Homo sapiens: one gene and its partners. The protein of the gene in region 1 interacts with the protein of each later gene in a biochemical or structural test. Each region holds a gene or a part of one and is shown on either strand. Other genes may lie near its edges.

Region 1 (5,122 bases):
ACAGGCAGTGAAACTAGAGGCAGTGCGACCACACCCAGCTAGTTTTCATATTTATAGTAGAGACAGGATCTTGCCATGATGCTCAGGCTGGCTTTAAACTCCTGGGCTCAAGTGATCACTGGCCTCAGCCTCCCAAAGTGCTGGGATTATAGGCTTGAGCCACCACACCCAGCCTACAATGATTTTCTTCACAGTATTTTTTTAAAATCAAGGTGAAAGTTTTACAGTCCCTTGTATATGGGATATTTTCGATGCATATTAGCTATTAAATAGTACAAGAGGCCGAGCGCAGCCAGGGTGACAAGAGCAAGACTCCGTCTCATAAATAAATAAATAGTACAAGAGTATTTAAAATGCACACACACACAAAAAATACAGAAATGAAGTGCATCAAAACCTTTATTTTTGTGTAGAAGAACATCTCCATTAAGTGATTTTATTTCCTTTGTGTTTTTCTTTCCTTGCTGAATTTTCTGCATTAACAAGTATTACTTCTGTAACAAGAAGAAAAACTAAATATTTGAGAATAAAAAGTATTGCCTTGATTATGCTGGCTACTAACCGTGGTTAAATAGGTAATAATTACATGTTTTGTACTAGTGATTCCATCCACTCTCTGGTCTGTGTGAGGGGGCCCTCATCAGACTTGGAGAGAACTAGGTATAGTTGGGAAAGTTAATTATTGCATTTGTTTTTAATGGCATTTAACTTTTTATTTTTAAGACAGGGTCTCACTCTGTCACCCAGACTGGAGTGCAGTGGCACAATCATGGCTCACTGCAGCCTTGGCCTCCTGGACTCAAGAGATCCTCCTGCCTCAGCCTCCCAAATACCCGGGACCATGAGCATGTGCCACCATGCCTGGCTGATTTATTTTTTGTAAAGACAAGGTCTCACTATGTTGCTCAGGCTGGTCTTGAACTTCTGGATGCAAGCAATCCTCCTGCCTCAGCCTCCCAAAGCACTGGGATTACAGGTGTGAGCCACCACATCCAGCCTTAACTTATTTTTAAAACTTCAAATAACAACCAAGAAAAGGGCATACGATTTTATGTTCTTCAAAAATGGGGCATACTAGTTTTAAAAAGGCAAAGACATACTGCTGTAGGGTCAACTTTTTAAAAATGTGCTATGTCACAATTCAACTAGTGTCCAAGCCAGCTAGAGAATTTAAAGGACTTATTTATAGTCAGTTAAATCAGTGATGAAATAGGTAGGAATGGCCTTAAAACCAGAACAGGAGGAAACAACCTAATACAATTCAGCGTTGGGTTTTATGGAACGCAGAATTATAGATCACCCAAGTGCTGAACACGTGGAGTTACGTGTGTTAGAAACTTCTTCCTGGAAATTCAGCGACCCTTCTGAATGTCTTTATAAGAAAATCAGCTTTTTGCACCGCCCTCTCAACCCCACCCTCAGAATTTCTTATGCTGTACAACACAAAACTTCTCCTGTTCTCACAAAGACTTCGTACACAGAAATCTATTTCTGCTTGGTGTTAGCTAACATTTATCTGAAGCCGCAGGACAGCTGAAAGGGTTGTTGGTTGGTTTTGTTTTCTAGGTTTATTTCTGCACAATTTTCCTTGCACAGCTACAATCTTATCTGTGGGAAGAGGAAGAGACACCATTTGCAGGGCTGTTAGCTTCCTGTGCTCTCAGAAAAGAGTGAAGCAGAAAGAACCCAAAATAATCCACTATAACAGATTGGCTTTTCTCCTTTTATTCATGAACTATTTGAATTTAAACCACACAGGTCAAAATGACCAAAGAGTTGTTTTTTGTTTTTGTTTTTGTTTTTGAAGAGATTGTTCTTTTTAGGTTCAAGATACACAGGAAGAGCAATTTGTACTGATGTTGCTACTGGTTTAAAGAAAGGTCTCAGTTACCATCATCTTAATCGGTAAAATTTAACATTTCACACATAATAAGTTGCCAAAGGAACACTCAAACAGCAAAAACAAACCTCAGCTTCTTTCAAACAAAAAAGAAGAAACAATGTTTTGGCCCTGCTTCATCAAACCTTTAGACAAATACGTAAGTCTACAATTTATAATAGTGTCTAGTAATTCTTAGAATTCCATTAACATTACATATCAGACAATATAGTCTCTCTTTTATGGAAAATTAAACAGTACCATTATTTGGCAACAGAAGTATATTACAATCAACAGCACATCCATCAAGGGGCGGGCCTGGTCCTACCCCTGGGCAGGGCTGTGAGGGAAGCAACATGCCACCAGCACTGTGGCCCGCTTGTCACTGGAAGCACAAGGAGCTCACGTTCTGATGGATTACATTCTTTTCCAAACAGGCAAAGGCTATCTGGGAGGGTTCGCTAGCACTCCTGGGAAGGGAGGGCCCCATGTTCTAGCTTTTCTTGTCCCCAGACTTTTTTGAAACAACCAAGGCCCAAGGGACAGTTGACTGGCTGACTTGTTTCCACTCACAGCCCTCTTGCCACCCCAGCCAGAGGGCATCGTTCTAAGGAAGGAGAGTCAGGGCCTGTTTGGGGTTGGTAGACCAGAGCTCATCTCCTCTGCTGGCAGGCCTTAGGTGGCCTTCCAAGGCTGCGCCTGAACAAAGAAATCTCTGAACAGCTCCATCTTTGGGAATAAAGCCAGTTATGGACCACATGGACAGTGCCTCTAAGTGATTTGCAGATTATTCATGCACCTAAATAGATTCCAGGAAGCTTCCAGAAATCACAGCTTCCCATACTCCTGAAGTCAGCAGCTTTACTGGTTCGGGCCTCTCAAAAAAGGGGCTCCAGTTGCTGGTTGACAGCATTAAGATGCACGCAGCCTGTTCAAAGAAATGTTGAAAACCTAACACATTCTTCAGATGTCTTTTCAGACCACAGGCCCTCAACCTTCCACCAGCGGTGTCACCCCCAAACACAATGCATTCAGATCACCAGAAACCAGCTCTTTTTGTTACTGCAGTATTTCCAGGCTGCCAGGGGAGGCTGGACTCCTGGGGTTGCCCCCTCCTGAAATCATTTCTGAATGCCTTTCTCAGGGGTTTAGACATTGAGTTTCACAGAATCCTCCTTAGGTGGCCTAAGGGGCACTTCTGGTGGCCAAGTACAGAAAGTCTGTGCCCCAGAAGCAGCCTGGACTTCTGATCCTTTTCTGGGAATGCAGACGGGAGGAAGGCATCTTCCCCCTGGGGTCTCCATGGAAACATGGGCATCCAGAAGCCTGCCCCAAAACGGCTTAACTCAGAAACCCTAAACCATCCATCCACCCACCTGGCTATGCAACAGTTGAAGACAGTGAGGATGCATCAGGAAATTTCATGGAAAACGCAAACGCTAATTAGGGATAAACTGAATCAATCCAGATACAGAAGTAGAAAGGGCGACCTGGAAGTCAGAGAGTGGCCTCTCTAGTGGGATAGCTGCGTCAGCCCCAGATCCCTAACAAATCCACTAGAACCCAAGGAAGCCTGCGTGGCACATGGATCTGATGAAAAACAGGCTCCCTATCCTCTCATCCTTCCTGACACAAGTACCCTCTCAGATATGTGATCTGCAAAAATCCATTTTTAATGCAACACCAAGGTCCCATGCGAGGTCATAGCTACAGGATACTTTTCATTTGATCACGCCACCATCCATTACACTGAAATTTATCATATTTCCTGCAGGAAAAAAAATGACTCATTTGATTTCTAACATATACAACTTGGAATTTTTTTTTAATATAAGAAATTTAGTTGAGTTGAACCCAAGTAATCTCATTAAGCATTTTCTACTCTTGGAATAGGTTTTAAATTTTTTTCTATAGTTTTATGCACTTAAATTAGATTCCTAAAATACTCTCATATACATACAGAAAAATAATCTCTCAATGACAAATCACATTTTACAATAACAAGTTAAATATTTTTGACTACAGAATCTGTGTTAGTTTATGCAACATTTAACAGCATGGCCTCTTACATACCATATATACATTTAGTCATGGCCATTCCATAAACATACAGCAGAGATTTCATGAGGAACATGAAATGAATACAACCTTTTCCCTTTATATAGTGGGAGTTCGCCTTTTTCTTAGCTGGAAACAGCACAGAATGTAGAAAACCGGAAACTGAGCTGATTATCATCCACAGGACATTTTTGTTGCAGTTTCTCATCTGTACACATGTATTTACACATAAGTTCACCACCTATACGTGTGAGGGTACAAAGCTGATGGAGCTAAGGCAATACAACACGGGGTGGGCAGGGGCCAACTCCCCTATCTATGCAGGGCCACCAAGGGATAAGAAGGGTCATGGAGGGCACAGACTCCGGCTTGCGGGGCTACAGCAGATGAGATCTGAGGTTGATTTCACAGTTCAAAGATACTTGGGCTATTGGCCATGTAGGCTTTAAATGCATGTCTAAAATTAAGTAGCATTAACATAGATCTTGCTAAAATATCTACTTTCTGTCACAGTGAATGTTTAGCAGATGACATTTTAAGGATATTGATTTATAGAATGTACCTCAAATGTTCATTCATTAAAACTAATGCTGACACGCTATTAATGAAATGCCCCTGGAGAACACTTGCAGAACTTCCCGTAGTCCGGAAGATTGCATGACGCATGAAAACAAAGCCATAATTTGTTATGTCATTCAAGGTGACTCAATCAAATCCAGGTGAGATGAGTTTGCAATTTCTGTCAACATTTTTACTTAGCAAATATAATCCCAGACAGAATCAGGAAACATAGTGAGGATTATTGCTCAATGTATATGGAGATGGGGACCTACTTGCAAAAAGCAAATGGAACTGCAAACATTTTGGAGCGTCCAGCCCAGGAAAAGTAAAAGCTCGTGAAAGAAAGCAACAACAGGAAGCCCAGCTTCATGGTCAGCTGCCTCCCGGGGCCATGGTCTTCTAGAACTTGAGGCTACTTACACAGAGGGATCTTTTCTCTCCTACCATCCCCATACATGGGATCCTAAGGGGAGAGTCTAGCTGGGAGGTCGCAGCCTCTCCGAAGCAGGTTCCTCCCAGACACCCGCAGACCAGATCGTGTGGCCCAGCTGGGCAGGGAGGCACTGGCTCCGCAGACTCCCCTTCTCTCCAGGGGGTGAAGGCTGGAGGAGCAAGTGTCCAGCC
Region 2 (4,669 bases), on another chromosome or scaffold:
CCCCAAAATACATATATGTATATTTAATAATGATCTCTACCTATATTTACATATAATACGCAATATATTATATTCACATATAATACGCAATATATTATATTCACATATAATACGCAATATATTATATTCACATATAATACGCAATATATTATATTCACATATAATACGCAATATATTATATTCACATATAATACGCAATATATTATATTCACATATAATACGCAATATATTATATTCACATATAATACGCAATATATTATATTCACATATAATACGCAATATATTATATTCACATATAATATATTCACATATATTATATATTATATTCACATATATCATATTATATTCACATATAATATATCGTATTATATTCACATATATCATATTTATATATTTGCATATTTTATATAATATTTTAAACTATTTGTATAAATATTTATATTTAAAATATTTGTATAAATATTTATATTTAAAATATTTGTATAAATATTTATATTTAAAATATTTGTATAAATATTTATATTTATGAATATAATGTGTTATTTTATATGTTATAGATTGTATAGGTTTTATATGTATCTAGGTTGTATATGTAAATATTATAAATAAATATTTATATTATTTAAATATGTATACACATATATTTCTTTTTAGCATCAATTCAGAACCAGCATTTGATTGAGAAATACAGTCAAGTTTGAGATGTCCTGATTTTTATTAAAGTACAACTTCCTTCATTTGAAGAAAAATAATCTGAACATATTTAATAAAAAATTATAATGCATTAAAAACGTGGTAAATGAAATGAGCCAGGCACAGAAAGACCAATACCACACGATCTCACTCTTTTTTTTTTTTTTTTTTTTTTTTTTTTTGAGACGGAGTCTCGCTCTGTCGCCCAGGCCGGACTGCGGACTGCAGTGGCGCAATCTCAGCTCACTGCAAGCTCCGCCTCCCGGGTTCACGCCATTCTCCCGCCTCAGCCTCCCGAGTAGCTGGGACTACAGGCGCCCGCCACCGCGCCCGGCTAATTTTTTGTATTTTTAGTAGAGACGGGGTTTCACCTTGTTAGCCAGGATGGTCTCGATCTCCTGACCTCATGATCCACCCGCCTCGGCCTCCCAAAGTGCTGGGATTACAGGCGTGAGCCACCGCGCCCGGCCCACACGATCTCACTCTTATGTGGAATATTTAAAAGTTGATCTTGGCTGGGCACAGTGGCACTTTGGGAGGCCAAGGAACGGGGATCATCTGAGGCTGGGAGTTCAAGACCAGCCTGGCCAACATGGTGAAACCCCGTCTCTATCGAAAATACAAAAATTAGCCAGGATGATGGTGCATGCCTGTAATCCCAGCTACTTGGGAGGCTGAGGCAGGAGGATCGCTTGAACCCAGGATGTGGATGTTGCTATTAGCCGAGATCGTGCCACTGCACTCCAGCTTGGGCAACAGAGGGAGACTTCATCTCAAAAAACTAAATAAAATAAAATAAAATAAAATAAAATAACATAAAAATAAAAGTTGATCTTATAGAATTAGAGAGTAGAATGGTGGTTACCAGAGGCTGAGGTAGTGGTGGTGGGGTGGGGTGGGGGTTTGTTTAGAGAGATGTTGGTCAAAAGACACAAAATTTCAGTTAGATGAGAGGAATAAATTCAAGAGATTGATTGCATAAGGTGGTGACTGTAGGTAATAACCATATACTGTATTCCTGAAAAATGCTAAAGTGAATGGAAAGTGTTCTCATCACAAAAATAACTATGTGAGGTAATACGTATGTTAGTTTAGTCATTCCATAACGTACATATATTCAAAATATCATGTTGTACCTAATACAGACATACAATTGTACCTGTCAATTTAAAAAATAAAAAAGTTTAAAAAAATCTAGGGAGTCAGCTGGTGTGGTGGCTCATGCCTGTAATCCCAGCACTTTAGGAGGCTGATGCGGGCGGATCACCTGAGGTCAGGAGTTCCAGACCAGCATAGCCAACAGGGTGAAATCCCGTCTCTATTAAAAATACAAAAAATTAGCAGGGCTTGGTGGTGCATGCCTGTATTCCTAGCTACTCAGGAGGCTGAGGCAGGAGAATCGCTTGAACACAGGAGGTGGACATTGCAGTGAGCCAAGATTGTGCCACTGCACTCCAGCCTGGGTGATAGGGTGAGACTCTGTCTCAAAAAAAAAAAAAAAAACCAAAAAAATCTAGGCAGTCAAGTGGCTGGGAACCAATGAGAGACTCAGGCACTATCAGGATCCTGGTATGAATTAGGCTTATTTAGTATATCAATAATAATTTGAGATAAGGGCAATTCTAGATACAAAAAGAAAGTTCTCATATATTGTAAGTATCAAACATTCCTTTATTATTGAACTATTTCTTAGTGTTAGATTTTATTAGAATTCTTTCATAGGACTATCTTACTAGAAAAACAAAAGCAGATTGTGTACCTTGAATCATTTAAAATAAGAGGTTTTAGTATAGTAATGTTCTTAACAAAATTATAATCATCTTGTTTATCAATATAAACTTATAATCTTAATTAGTATAATGTTTTGCAACTTCATTTTTTTGTGGCACATTTCTCTAATTTTGTGATAAAATATTTTACTTGTAAGCTTAAACTAATAAGAATATGTATGAATATTTTTGTCAGTAGTCCCCAAGTTATCTTTTAAAGTTTCCATTTAAAAAAATGAGTTATAGCTTTTAAATACTGTTAAAAGAAGTGTTACTTTAGTTACTTTTATTCAATAGTAGGTACTTTAGAAAACAAATATGTCATGTGGAAGAGATACCGATCATGTAAATAGGCTTACCTGATATTTGAGCATGTCAACGTTATAATATGTAGCCTGGGGTTTTTGTTCAGACACTTTCTTTAGGTGAGTCATCAAATTTGGCATGTTTACCCAGAATTCCTTGGTATTGGCATCATTTTGTGTATTATCACTGTTCATTTGGGAAGAAAAATGATTGAGTAGCATCTTAAAACAAATATAAACCCTACACGAAGCATCTTAGCAAATTGTCGTCTGATATGTACAGCCATTTTTTGACAATTTGTAGAGATTATTATGAATCTATTAACAGTAGTGTGGTTTTCATACAAATACAGTTCTGAATGCTATGGTGTTGGTAGATTAATATCCACGAGGAGGAGCTACTGTGTTGCTATCAATCTCAGTGAGTGCTCAGTAATATTAACTAATTGCGATGATAATTGGGAGCTTTAAAGAGTGAATTATTTATTAACTCAAACTTAATATCCCTTTCTATGAAACCAGCTTTGTCTAAATTAGTCAGTTAAGGCAATTAAGGAACTGAATACGTTTATTTACTTTTGAATTACTTTGACCAGTAGTTTCTCAGAAATTATCCAGTGAAATATTTGGCCAAATGTAAACATGGTCTTTATCACCAACTAAGCAGAAAAGAGTGATACTAAAATTACCATGCTGCCTTTTCAGCATTCATAATATTTCATCCATGAGCATTTAAATCATCAAAGATTTCACTTCACTTATAAGATGATCCTGGAGTTTAAATGATAATTTTGGTAGTTATAATACAGAAGAAGAGCAGAGTCTCTATAAGCTAAGAAGTTTTATATCCCTATGAGAGTCTTAGCTTTGCTCAGAGGCCTGTATACAGACCACTTACCCAATCTATCTTGCAAATGCTCATCTCAATGATAAAAAGAATCAGGCAAGAGTGTACAAACATATAACTCATTTCCCGTATAATGAGGAAGCTGAGGCCACAAGTGATTCAGTTACTTGTCACACACATTTGCTGACAGTTCACTTTCAGAATATCCTATATAGTGCAATAACAGTAGTTACAGTTTCTTAACCACCTATTATATGCTAGGCATTATAAACTATTTCATTAAAATCTACCCTGCAAAGGAAGAATTATTGTCTTTGTTTTTAAAGATGAGCAAACTTGTTAAAAAAAAAAGAGAGAAAATTAGGGGTTGAGAAGAGAGAAGGCTGATACAGTGAAAAAGTGAAAAGACAGGTCAAAAGTAAGTTGCTATGATTCAGCCTCCAGAAGTCTCATAAATCAAGAAAGCTGAGTAAAAAACACCAGGGCTTTAAAACTGTCACTGATCTGTTAGGAAAGAGTGGCCAAGTCTCAGTGTGACCAGTGTGGTTTTGCTGTCCCTGGATATAAAGTTATTGAGGATGAGGCAAAGCTCTTTGGCCCTGGAAATGGAGGAAGGGGGTGGAAAATACACCTGGTCCTTAAGACTTTGCCCCTTTTCAGTTGAGCTAGGGATGCTGGTAAGGGCTATCTGAGTTTTTTTAAATTGAAAAGCATCTAAGTTACCCAAGCTCCCAGAGCTGTTGCTATACAAGCAGGCAGGAGGTAAGAGTAACAGAGGGTCAGTGAAATTAAATAATTTGCTTAAGGTCATGCAGCTAATAAGAAACAGCCAGATTCCAGCCCATATCAGTTCTACAAATAACACTTTCACACCATGCCAAAATAGAGGTTCAGAATTAATATCTAGCAACATGTCATTAATTTGTACTAAGTAGATTTGAATAACTGGGAAACCCTCAATTATATAATGCTATTTTAAAGAAATACATTTGCTGAGATTAATAGCAAAATAAGCTGTCATAGGTCTGTGATAATTTCTTAGAGAACCTGCTTTA
Region 3 (4,669 bases), on another chromosome or scaffold:
ATTACCTCTTGGTACAGACACCCCCAAACAAAAAGCAGAGGTAGATGGTCATTCTGACACCTGCCCTGCCATGGTGTTCTCAGGCCTGGACACCCCAAGAACTGGGCAGCTGTCTCCCCTATCATCAGCAGAGCACTGCTCCTCTCCCCGTCAACCACCCTCCACCCCACCTTCCTAAATCCTAGCTGGAACCACAGAAGTGGCCAAAAAGGGAGGGAGCCAGGGTGAAATGCACTTCAAGAAGAGTAGTCTTTAAACTCAGAAGGCCTGGGGAAGATATTTACATTAGAACTGGGGAAGATATTTACATATAATTTTTACTTGCCAATTAAAGAAAAACAAACAGAACTGGAGAAGATACTAGAAACATCTATGACAAAAACGGTAACATTCTCAATACATAAAGAGCACTTGCAACTAATGAAGAAAAAGACAAACATGCTCCACCATGGGCAAATGAAAAAGTAATTCAGTAAGAATAAATACGAATAGGTGATAACAATGAAGTATCACAAATACTATTTGAACCTTAAGAAAGTGTTGGCTTGGCGCGGTGGCTCACGCCTGTAATCCCAGCACTTTGGGAGGCCAAGGCGGGTGGATCACGAAGTCAGGAGATCCAGACCATCCTGGCTAACATGGTGAAACCCCGTCTCTACTAAAAATACAAAAAATTAGCCTGGCGTGGTGGTGGACGCCTGTAGTCCCAGCTACTTGGGAGGCTGAGGCAGGAGAATGGCGTGAACCCGGGAGGCAGAGCTTGCAGTGAGCCGAGATCGCGCCACTCCACTCCAGCCTGGGCGACAGAATGAGACTCTGTCAAAAAGAAAAAAAAGAAAGAAAGTGTCAAAGATTTACAGGACAATGCTGTGTGTTAGCAGGATTATTAGAAAAATAAGCCCTCATACTTGGCTGACAGGAGGATAAAGTTGATACAGACTTCAAGAACAATTTGGGAAATGCAGCAACGCATTAAATCTGTCTATAACCTCTGACATAGCAATTCATCTTCTGGTATTTACCCAAAGGAAATAATTAAATATGTGGCCAAAGATGTAGTCACCAGAATATGCCTCACAGTGACTGTATAATTTAAGCACTGGATATAAATATAAACACTTATATAACCTAAATATTCATCAGTAGGGGGTTGAGTAAATTAATGATGGTGCATCCATATAAGAAAATATTACGCAGATATTTATAAAGGTGTTATAGAAGAATACTTACTGACATAAAAAATGACCCTGGATTTTTTTTTAATTAATTAATTGATGTTTTTGAGACTGAGTCTCATTCTGTCATCCAGGCTGGAGAGCAGTGGTGAGATCTCGGCTCACTGCAGCCTCCACCTCCTGGGTTCAAGCGATTCTTGTGCCTCTGCCCCTCAAGTAGCTGGGATTACAGGCACACACCACCATGCCTGGCTAATTTTTGTATTTTTCAGTAGAGACAGGGTTTCACCCTGTTGGCTGGCCTGGAACTCCTGGCCTCAAGCAATCCGCCCACCTCAGCCTCCCAAAGTGCTGGGATTACAGGCGTGAGCCACCACACCCGGCCCCCTGGTTTATTTTTCAGCAAATGTGCAAACATTTGGGAAAAAAAAAATCTATGATGGGATTACTTCTGGTGGAGAAATGGGGCTGGCCAGGTGCTATTTCTTGACCTGTTTGACCTGGGTGATATTACATAGTTATTCTCTTCACACACATATTTATTCTCAACCGTGGCATGATTACTATGTGGGCTGAATCACTCTGTGGTTGGTGTGGGGGACCTCCCCTTGCACTGTGGAATGTCTAGCAGCATCCTCAGCCTCTACCCTGTAGATAAACACCCTGTGCCCCCAACCCCTGTGGCAACAACCCAAAATGTCTCCAGACATTGGCAAATGTCATCTGAGGAAAAAACTGCCCCCAGTTGAGAACTACTGTATTAAATCATATATTTATATCTTCTGCACTTTCCTTGTATGTTAAATTTTATAACTAAAATTTTTAAGAAAAAAAATCTTGGAGGAAATGTGTCAAATTGTTAACAAGTTAATTCAAAGTGGCAGGATTTGGGGCTATTTTTTACTCTTGCCTCATGGCCTTTCTGTAGTTTGTCATTTTTAACAGCAAGTACATATTATGTTTATAAAAAGAAAACAGGCTAGGCGGGGTGGCTGACACCTGTAATCCAAGCACTTTGGGAGGCCAAGGTGGGTGGATTGACTGATGTCAGGAGTTTGAGACCAGCCTGGGCAACATGGTGAAACCCCATCTCTACTAAAAATAAAAATAAAAATTAGCCAGGCATGGTTGCAGGTGCCTGTAATCCCAGCTACTCGGGAGGCTGAGGCAGGAGAATCACTCGAACCTGGGAGGCGGCGGTTGCAATGAGCCGACAACGTGCCATTGCACTCCAGCCTGGGTAATAAGAGTGAAAGTCCATTTCAAAAAAAAAAAAGAAGGAAGGAATGAAGGAAGGAAGGAAGGAAGGAAGGAAGGAAGGAAGGAAGGAAGGAAAGAAGGAAGGAAGGAAAGAAGGAAGAGAAGAGAAAGCTCTTTTCTTTTTTTTTTTTTTTTTTTTGAGATGGAGTCTCACTCTGTCACCCAGGCTGGAGTGCAGTGGCTCAATCTTGGCTCACTGCAACCTCCGTCTCCTGGGTTCATGCCATTCTCCTGCCTCAGCCTCCCGAGTAGCTGGGACTACAGGCACCCACCACCACACCCGGCTAATTTTTTTTGTATTTTTAGTAGAGACAGGGTTTCACCATGTTAGCCAGGATTGTCTCGATCTCCTGACCTCATGATCCACCCGCCTTGGCCTCCCAAATTGCTGGGATTACAGGCGTGAGCCACCACGCCTGGCCGCTGTTTTCAATATTTTAAGTCATTTGTAATATGTAAACAGCTAGGTTCAGAGAGTCCGGGGCCTTCAGCCCACTTTCCCTACATAGGTGAGTTAAGAGTGTTCCCTGACGACAGGAATCCACCTCCAACTAGTTCTATAAGATCCCCCAACTCCTGCCCCAAATCTAGAGACCCCCAGGAGATCAAGAAGAGAAGAGGTGGGAGGGGGAGGCTGGAGGAGGAGACGCCCTGACAGGATGAGAGAGAGGGAAGTGTCAGTAATGACTTCTGGGTTCCTGGCTGATGACACAGGGCAGAAATTCACCAAGTGGGGACGCAGCAGATCTGGCCTTCAAGGAAATAAGATGTTTCAGCTTTAAAGCAGTAGGGATCTGGTTTTGTTCTTGTATGCATCCAAGCACCTAGAAAAGCACCAGGCACGTAGTAGGTACTCAGTAAATATTTGTTCAATGAACTAACTGCATGAATAGAGGGATATAAATAATCACATTAAGGAATGGAAAATGGGCAGGGCAGAAAAGAAGTACAGACAATTAAATGCTATAGGAAATTAAGCTGCTCGTTGACACAATCAGTCAAAAATATCTACTATGGCCCAGTTACTCATGGTAGTTTTAGTTAATGAATTAATTAATAGAAAAACAAAAGAATGAGAAGTATTCATTAGTAGCCTCTACTATTAATAGAGGTGCTTAGACAGGGAAGCCAAAAAATTGCCCTCAGAGTCCAGCCTCCCAGAGCTCATAGTCTATTTTGGGAGGCAGGTCCTGAAATTACATCCGAGACAGGGAACAACTGCAAGGAAAGTGGGGCCAGCCCAGCCCCATACATTTCAGGCTGCCTGTAGGAGCCAAACACACAGTGCAGGCTGGCTTCTCTGCAAGCAGGCCACTGTCCCATCTGTGCCATGAGGAGCTGGGCTCAGTGGTTCTCAACCCTGACTGCACATTCAAAACACCTGGAAATTTGACAGAAACAACACCTATGCCTGGGGCCCCACCGGAAGGGATCTGGCTTCAGAAAAGGCAGGCAGGGAGGTTGGCAGTGGTCTTTGGTGAAGCTCCCACACACAATGTTGACCTGCAGCCAGAGTTGAGTCCCCCCAGCCTACATGCTCTGTAAGTTCTGAACCTGGTTCTAACGGTTTCCCTCCTTAGGCATCAACTCAGCCCCAAACTCCCCAGTGAATGCTCCCGCAATGGGGAGCGCATTAATTTCACCTGCCATCACATCTCAGACCCATTTTTCCCAAGATGCGGTTCCAAAATAACCTGCATCGGGTATTTGTTAAGTGCTGATTCTTAGGTCACCTTCCAGACCTGCTGCATCGGAACCTCTACAGATGGGGACTCTGGAATCTGTTTCTCAAACACGTTCTACAAGTGATTCTCAGGAACAATCAAGTGAGCGGACCATGTCCCAGACTAAATGAAGCTCCCAGGCACACCTGGAGGATGGCTAGAGGCTGGGCCAGAAAGCGCACAAACACTAGAGAGCACCTACTTGTGCTCAGCACTGGGACAAACCAATGAACAAATAGGACAGGTCACTGCTCTCAAGGCACCTAAGCATGGAGCTGAGCACAGGCCAGTCAGGGCGAGGGTGCTAGCATCCCTAGCAAGGTGCTGCTGCTTGTCATCCAGAGAGGAGAGACTCTTGAGAGCCAGGGGGATCCAGGGTGTCCTCCTGGAGAAGGTGGCATTGCCCTGGGCTTTGAAATACAAATAGACTTGAAACGGTTGGAGATGTTACATTCTATTGTATGGTATTTCTGTTTTCCGAGGAGATCATCAGTGCAAATAAATAGTAAG
Region 4 (4,669 bases), on another chromosome or scaffold:
GAAGCAGGCTAGGCGTGGTGGCTCATGCCTGTAATCTCAGCACTTTGGGAGGCCGAGGCAGGCAGATCACGAAGTCAAGAGATCAAGACCATCCTGGCCAACATGGTGAAACTCCATCTCTGCTAAAAATACAAAAATTAGCCGGGCGTGGTGGCGCGCGCCTGTAATCCCAGCTACTCAGGAGGCTGAGGCAGGAGAATTGCTTGAACTCTGGAGGCGGAAGTTGCATTGAGCCAAGATTGCACCACTGCACTCCAGCCTGGGTGACAGAGCGAGACTCCATCTCAAAAAAAAAAAAGAAAAAAAAGAGAAAAAAGAAAGAAAGAGAAGAAGCAGAGGAGAAGAGGGAAGAGGAGAAGAAACCAACTATTCTATAGAAACAAAATGAAATCTAAAATTCTATGCAAACTTTAAAAAATAACTTACCTAGTACAGCTGACTCCTGGTTCAATAGTGAGGAAATATTGGTTGGAGAATTCAGTGATAAAGAATCATGTGAATTGTAATAAGAGAAGAGGGATGTAGAGGATGTTGGCAACAGAGAAGAAGGAAAAACAGTTCCATCTTGCTTCTCAGGTAAATCAAGAGACATCTTAGAACTGGTACCACTTGGAGGCCATGATGAAAAATAAGGATTTTCCACTAAAGGTATGTAAGAATATACACCAAGAGCACTAGAGTCATGGTGCTTTACATTAGAGGCATTACGTATTTGGTGTTTAGAGTCATATGGCAGTGAATAATTCAGTTCTGCTGAAGAAACATGCATTACTTTTTGAGCCTGCATCTCTACAAAACAAGAATCATGTGGTTGAGATTCCAAATAAGAAAAGTTTTCCTTGCTGTCCACCTCCTTGGTTTCTCTCTGCTGTATCAATTCAAAAGGAGTTGATTTGGTCCGTGTTATTGGCACCTTTGAATTAAAATATCTTCCTGCTGCATTTACAGGTTTAGAATTAGAACATCCCTCAAACAAAAGAGAGCCCAAATCCAAACTTTGATGCTTCTGAAGAGGCTCCCCAACTATTGGAAATGCCTTTGTCTGCCATTTCATGGTTGTGTCAGCATTTTTGTCAAAACTGTAATTTAGCTCCAGAAAGTCAAAAGAAGTGCTTGATTTAGCAGGGTGCAAAACTAGCTCTTCTTTTGCACTTATTTCAGAAGTCCTAAAGTCAAAGGAAGAAGATTCTTTGATTTCCATTTTTGTCCTTTGTTGGTTCATCATTTTTGCTGCTTTTGTGGTACTAAAACAAAAAGAAAGCGTAATGATGACACCATACCCCAAACAGGCCGCTTCCTAGCATCACAATGATGTATAAGCATGAGATTCATCTCCCAGACACAATTAGTCAACATTTAGATATATAAAATTGTACTCACCTTTTTGGTAAATTAGGAGAATAAGAGTCTGCTTGGAGAGTGTGATTTTTCTCAGGAATACAATGCTTTGCTTGACTCTTTAAAAGAAATAAGTCAGAGGCTGGTTTTCAGTGAAGCAATGTCAATAAGATATTTTAATATTTAGAAGGCTGAAAAGTAATTTTTCAGGAAATAAAAAGATTTAAAATAATTCATGAAAGAGTTAGATTAGCTTCCAAAATATTGAACTCAGCAAGAACTCGTTCATATACTGAGATGGCCAGAATAAAGGATTAATAGTATTATAGAAACTAGAAAGGATTTGTGTATATCATCATCTTTTCAAATGTGGGAGTTTTAAAAATGTTCTTTGGTGGGTAACTTTAGTCTCAAAAACACTCTGCCTTTAGAAATTTCAGCATCTCAGCCCTTTACAGGTACTTATTAGGTCTCTGGACCTATTTCATCTTGTTCTACTCTTTTCCTCCTCACTATGCTCTAGGTATACTGGTTTTCTTGCCATTACTTTAGCATGCCAAACTTATTTCCAAGTCAAGGCTTTTACACTTACTATTCCCCCTGATTAATATATTTTTGCTCCAAATTTTGCATGGCTGGCTCCTTCTAAGTAATTAGATCTCTGCTTAACTGTCATCTGCATAAGGAAACCTTCCCTGACCACCCAACCTAAAATCACATTTCTTCCCCTGTCCAGCCATGCTCAATCTTCTTCTTTTTTAAGAGACAGGGCCTCGCTGTATTGCCCAGTCTGGCCTCAAACTTCTGGGCTCAAGCAGTCCTCCTACCTCAGCCTCCCAAGTAGCTGGGACACTACAGGTGTGTACCACAGTGCCTGGCCTCAATCTTTTTTTTTTTTTTTGAATTAAGTTAGGGTCTTATTCTGTTACCCAGGCTGGAGTGCAGTGGCACAAACATGGCTCACTGCGGTGTTGACCTCCTGGGTTCAAGTCCTCCTCTCACCTCAGCTTCCCAATCCTTATTTTTTATAGCAATTATCATATTATGAAATATGTTATTGTGGTTCATAGAATCTTAAAATATAATTGATTATAAAATATATCTTCATTTCAGAGATGTTAAAATCCATTTTGAACATCTCAGTTGATGCAGAAAAAGCGTTTGACAAAATTCATGTTAAAATCACTTAACAAAATAGGAATATAAGGAAATGTTCTCAACATGATAGAGGCCATATATGAAAACCCATAACTAACATCATATTCATACATGAAAGACTTAAACTTTCCCCTAAGATCAAAAACAAGACAAGAATGCCAACTTTTACCACTTCTATTCAACATAGTACTAAAGTTCTAGCCAAAGTAATTTTTTTAATTAATTTTGTTCTTAGGCAAGAAAAAAAAAAGCATTCAAATTGGAAAAAAAGGCTGCGCACAGTGGCTCACGCCTGTAATCCCAGCACTTTGGGAGGCCAAGGTGAGTGGATCCCTTGAGGTCAGGAGTTTGAAACCAGCCTGGCCAACATGGTGAAAGCCCGTCTCTATTAAAAATATAAAAATTAGCCGGGCATGTGGTGCACACCTGTAATCCCACCTATTCGGGAGGCTGAAGCAGGAGACTTGCTTGAGCCCAGGAGGCGGAGGTTGAAGTGAGCCGAGATCGTACCACTGCATTCCAGCCTGGGCGACAGAATAAGACCCTAACTTAATTCCATCTCAAAAAAAAAAAAAAAATTGGAAAAAAAGGAAGTAAAATTATCTCTAGTCTCAGATGACATGATTTTATATATGGGATTCCACAAAAAATCTGCTAGAGCTAATAAACAAATTCAAAGTTGCAGGATGTAAAATGAACACATAAAACGAGTTGCATTTCTATACATTAGCAATGAACAATCTGAAAAGAACATTAAGGAAACAGTTATATTTATAATGGCATCAAAAAGAATAAAATACTTAGGAATAGATTTAACCAAGGAGGCAAAAGACTTGTATACTGAAAACTACAAAGCTTTGCTGAAAGAAATTAAATAAGATATAAATAAATAGACATTCAAAGTGATCTACAAGTGCAATGCAATTCTTATCAAAAACCCAATGGCATTTTTACATAATTTGTTTAAAAAACAGACTAAAATTCATGGAATTTCAAGGGGCACTGAACAGTCAAAACAATCTTGAAAAAGAAGAGCAAAGTTGAATGACACACTACCTGATTTCAAAAATTGCAACAGAGCTACAGTAATTAAAACAGTGTGGTACTGACATAGTATAGACTAAAGACCAATGGAATAGAAGAGCTTTGAAAAAAACATTTACATATGGTGGGCAATTGATTTTTGACAAAAGTGCCAAGAAAATTCAATGGAGAAAGGAGAGTGTTTTCAATAAATGATTCTGGGAAAAACTGAATATACACATGCAAAAGAATGAAGTTGAGGCTGGGTGCGGTGGCTCATGCCTGTAATCCCAGCACTTTGGGAGGCTGAGGCGGGTGGATCACCTGAGGTCAGGAGTTTGAGACCAGCCTGACCAACATGGAGAAACCCCGTCTCTACTAAAAATACAAAATTAGCCAGGCATGGTGGCGCATGCCTGTAATCCCAGCTACTCAAGAGGCTGAGGCCGGAGAATCACTTGAACCAGGGAGGTGGAGGTTCCAGTGAGCCAAGATCACGCCATTGCACTCCACCCTGGGCAGCAAGAACGAAACTCCATCTCAAAGGAAAAAAAAAAAGAGAGAGAATGAAGTTGGACCCTTATCTTATGATACAGAAATTAACTCAAAAATTGATCAAATACCTAAACATAAGAAGTAAAATGTAAAACTCTTATAAGAAAATGGGCAAGCTTCATGACATTGGATTTGGCAACGATTTCTTGGATAGGACACCAAAGGCACAAACAACAAAAGAATAATAGGAAAATTGGACTTCATTGAGATTAAGACTTTTACACACCAAAGGACACAAAGGCAAAAAGGCAACCCATTGACTGAATGGAAGACGGTATTTGCAAATCACATATCTGATAAGGGATCAATATCCAGAATACATAGAGAACTCCTAAAACTCAACAACATGTAAACAACTCTTTTTTTTTTTTTTTTGGTGGAGGGGGACAGAGTCTTACTCTGTCACCCAGGCTAGAGTGCAGTGGTGCGATCTCGGCTCACTGCAGCCTCTGCCTCCTGGGGTCCAGCAATTCTCCTGCATTAGCCTCCCAAGTACCTGGGATTACAGGCACACGCCACCACACCCGGCTAATTTTTGTCTTTGTAGGAGAGACGGGATTTCACCATGTTGGCCAGGCTGATCTCAAACTCCTGA

The links. Proteins that work in one complex are often made in the same cells at the same time.
Region 2: the proteins of ITSN1 (region 1) and SGIP1 form a complex in vitro, tested with the Homo sapiens proteins (one study listed by BioGRID).
Region 3: the proteins of ITSN1 (region 1) and DYSF interact in a surface display test, tested with the Homo sapiens proteins (one large-scale study listed by IntAct).
Region 4: the proteins of ITSN1 (region 1) and PTPN22 interact in a surface display test, tested with the Homo sapiens proteins (one large-scale study listed by IntAct).

The regions. Positions count from the first base shown.
Region 1 is NC_000021.9:33,896,449-33,901,570, reverse strand, and holds the end of ITSN1 (intersectin-1), read right to left. Parts: 3' UTR 1,710-5,122; downstream 1-1,709. UniProt on the Homo sapiens protein: Adapter protein that provides a link between the endocytic membrane traffic and the actin assembly machinery. Acts as a guanine nucleotide exchange factor (GEF) for CDC42, and thereby stimulates actin nucleation mediated by WASL and the ARP2/3 complex.
Region 2 is NC_000001.11:66,732,033-66,736,701, reverse strand, and holds part of SGIP1 (SH3-containing GRB2-like protein 3-interacting protein 1), read right to left. Parts: intron 2,955-4,669; coding exon 2,822-2,954; intron 1-2,821.
Region 3 is NC_000002.12:71,468,579-71,473,247, reverse strand, and holds part of DYSF (dysferlin), read right to left. Parts: intron 1-4,669. UniProt on the Homo sapiens protein: Key calcium ion sensor involved in the Ca(2+)-triggered synaptic vesicle-plasma membrane fusion.
Region 4 is NC_000001.11:113,837,164-113,841,832, forward strand, and holds part of PTPN22 (tyrosine-protein phosphatase non-receptor type 22), read right to left. Parts: intron 1,481-4,669; coding exon of another isoform or gene 1,460-1,480; exon of another isoform or gene 1,458-1,459; coding exon 1,381-1,457; intron 1,245-1,380; coding exon 427-1,244; intron 1-426. UniProt on the Homo sapiens protein: Acts as a negative regulator of T-cell receptor (TCR) signaling by direct dephosphorylation of the Src family kinases LCK and FYN, ITAMs of the TCRz/CD3 complex, as well as ZAP70, VAV, VCP and other key signaling molecules.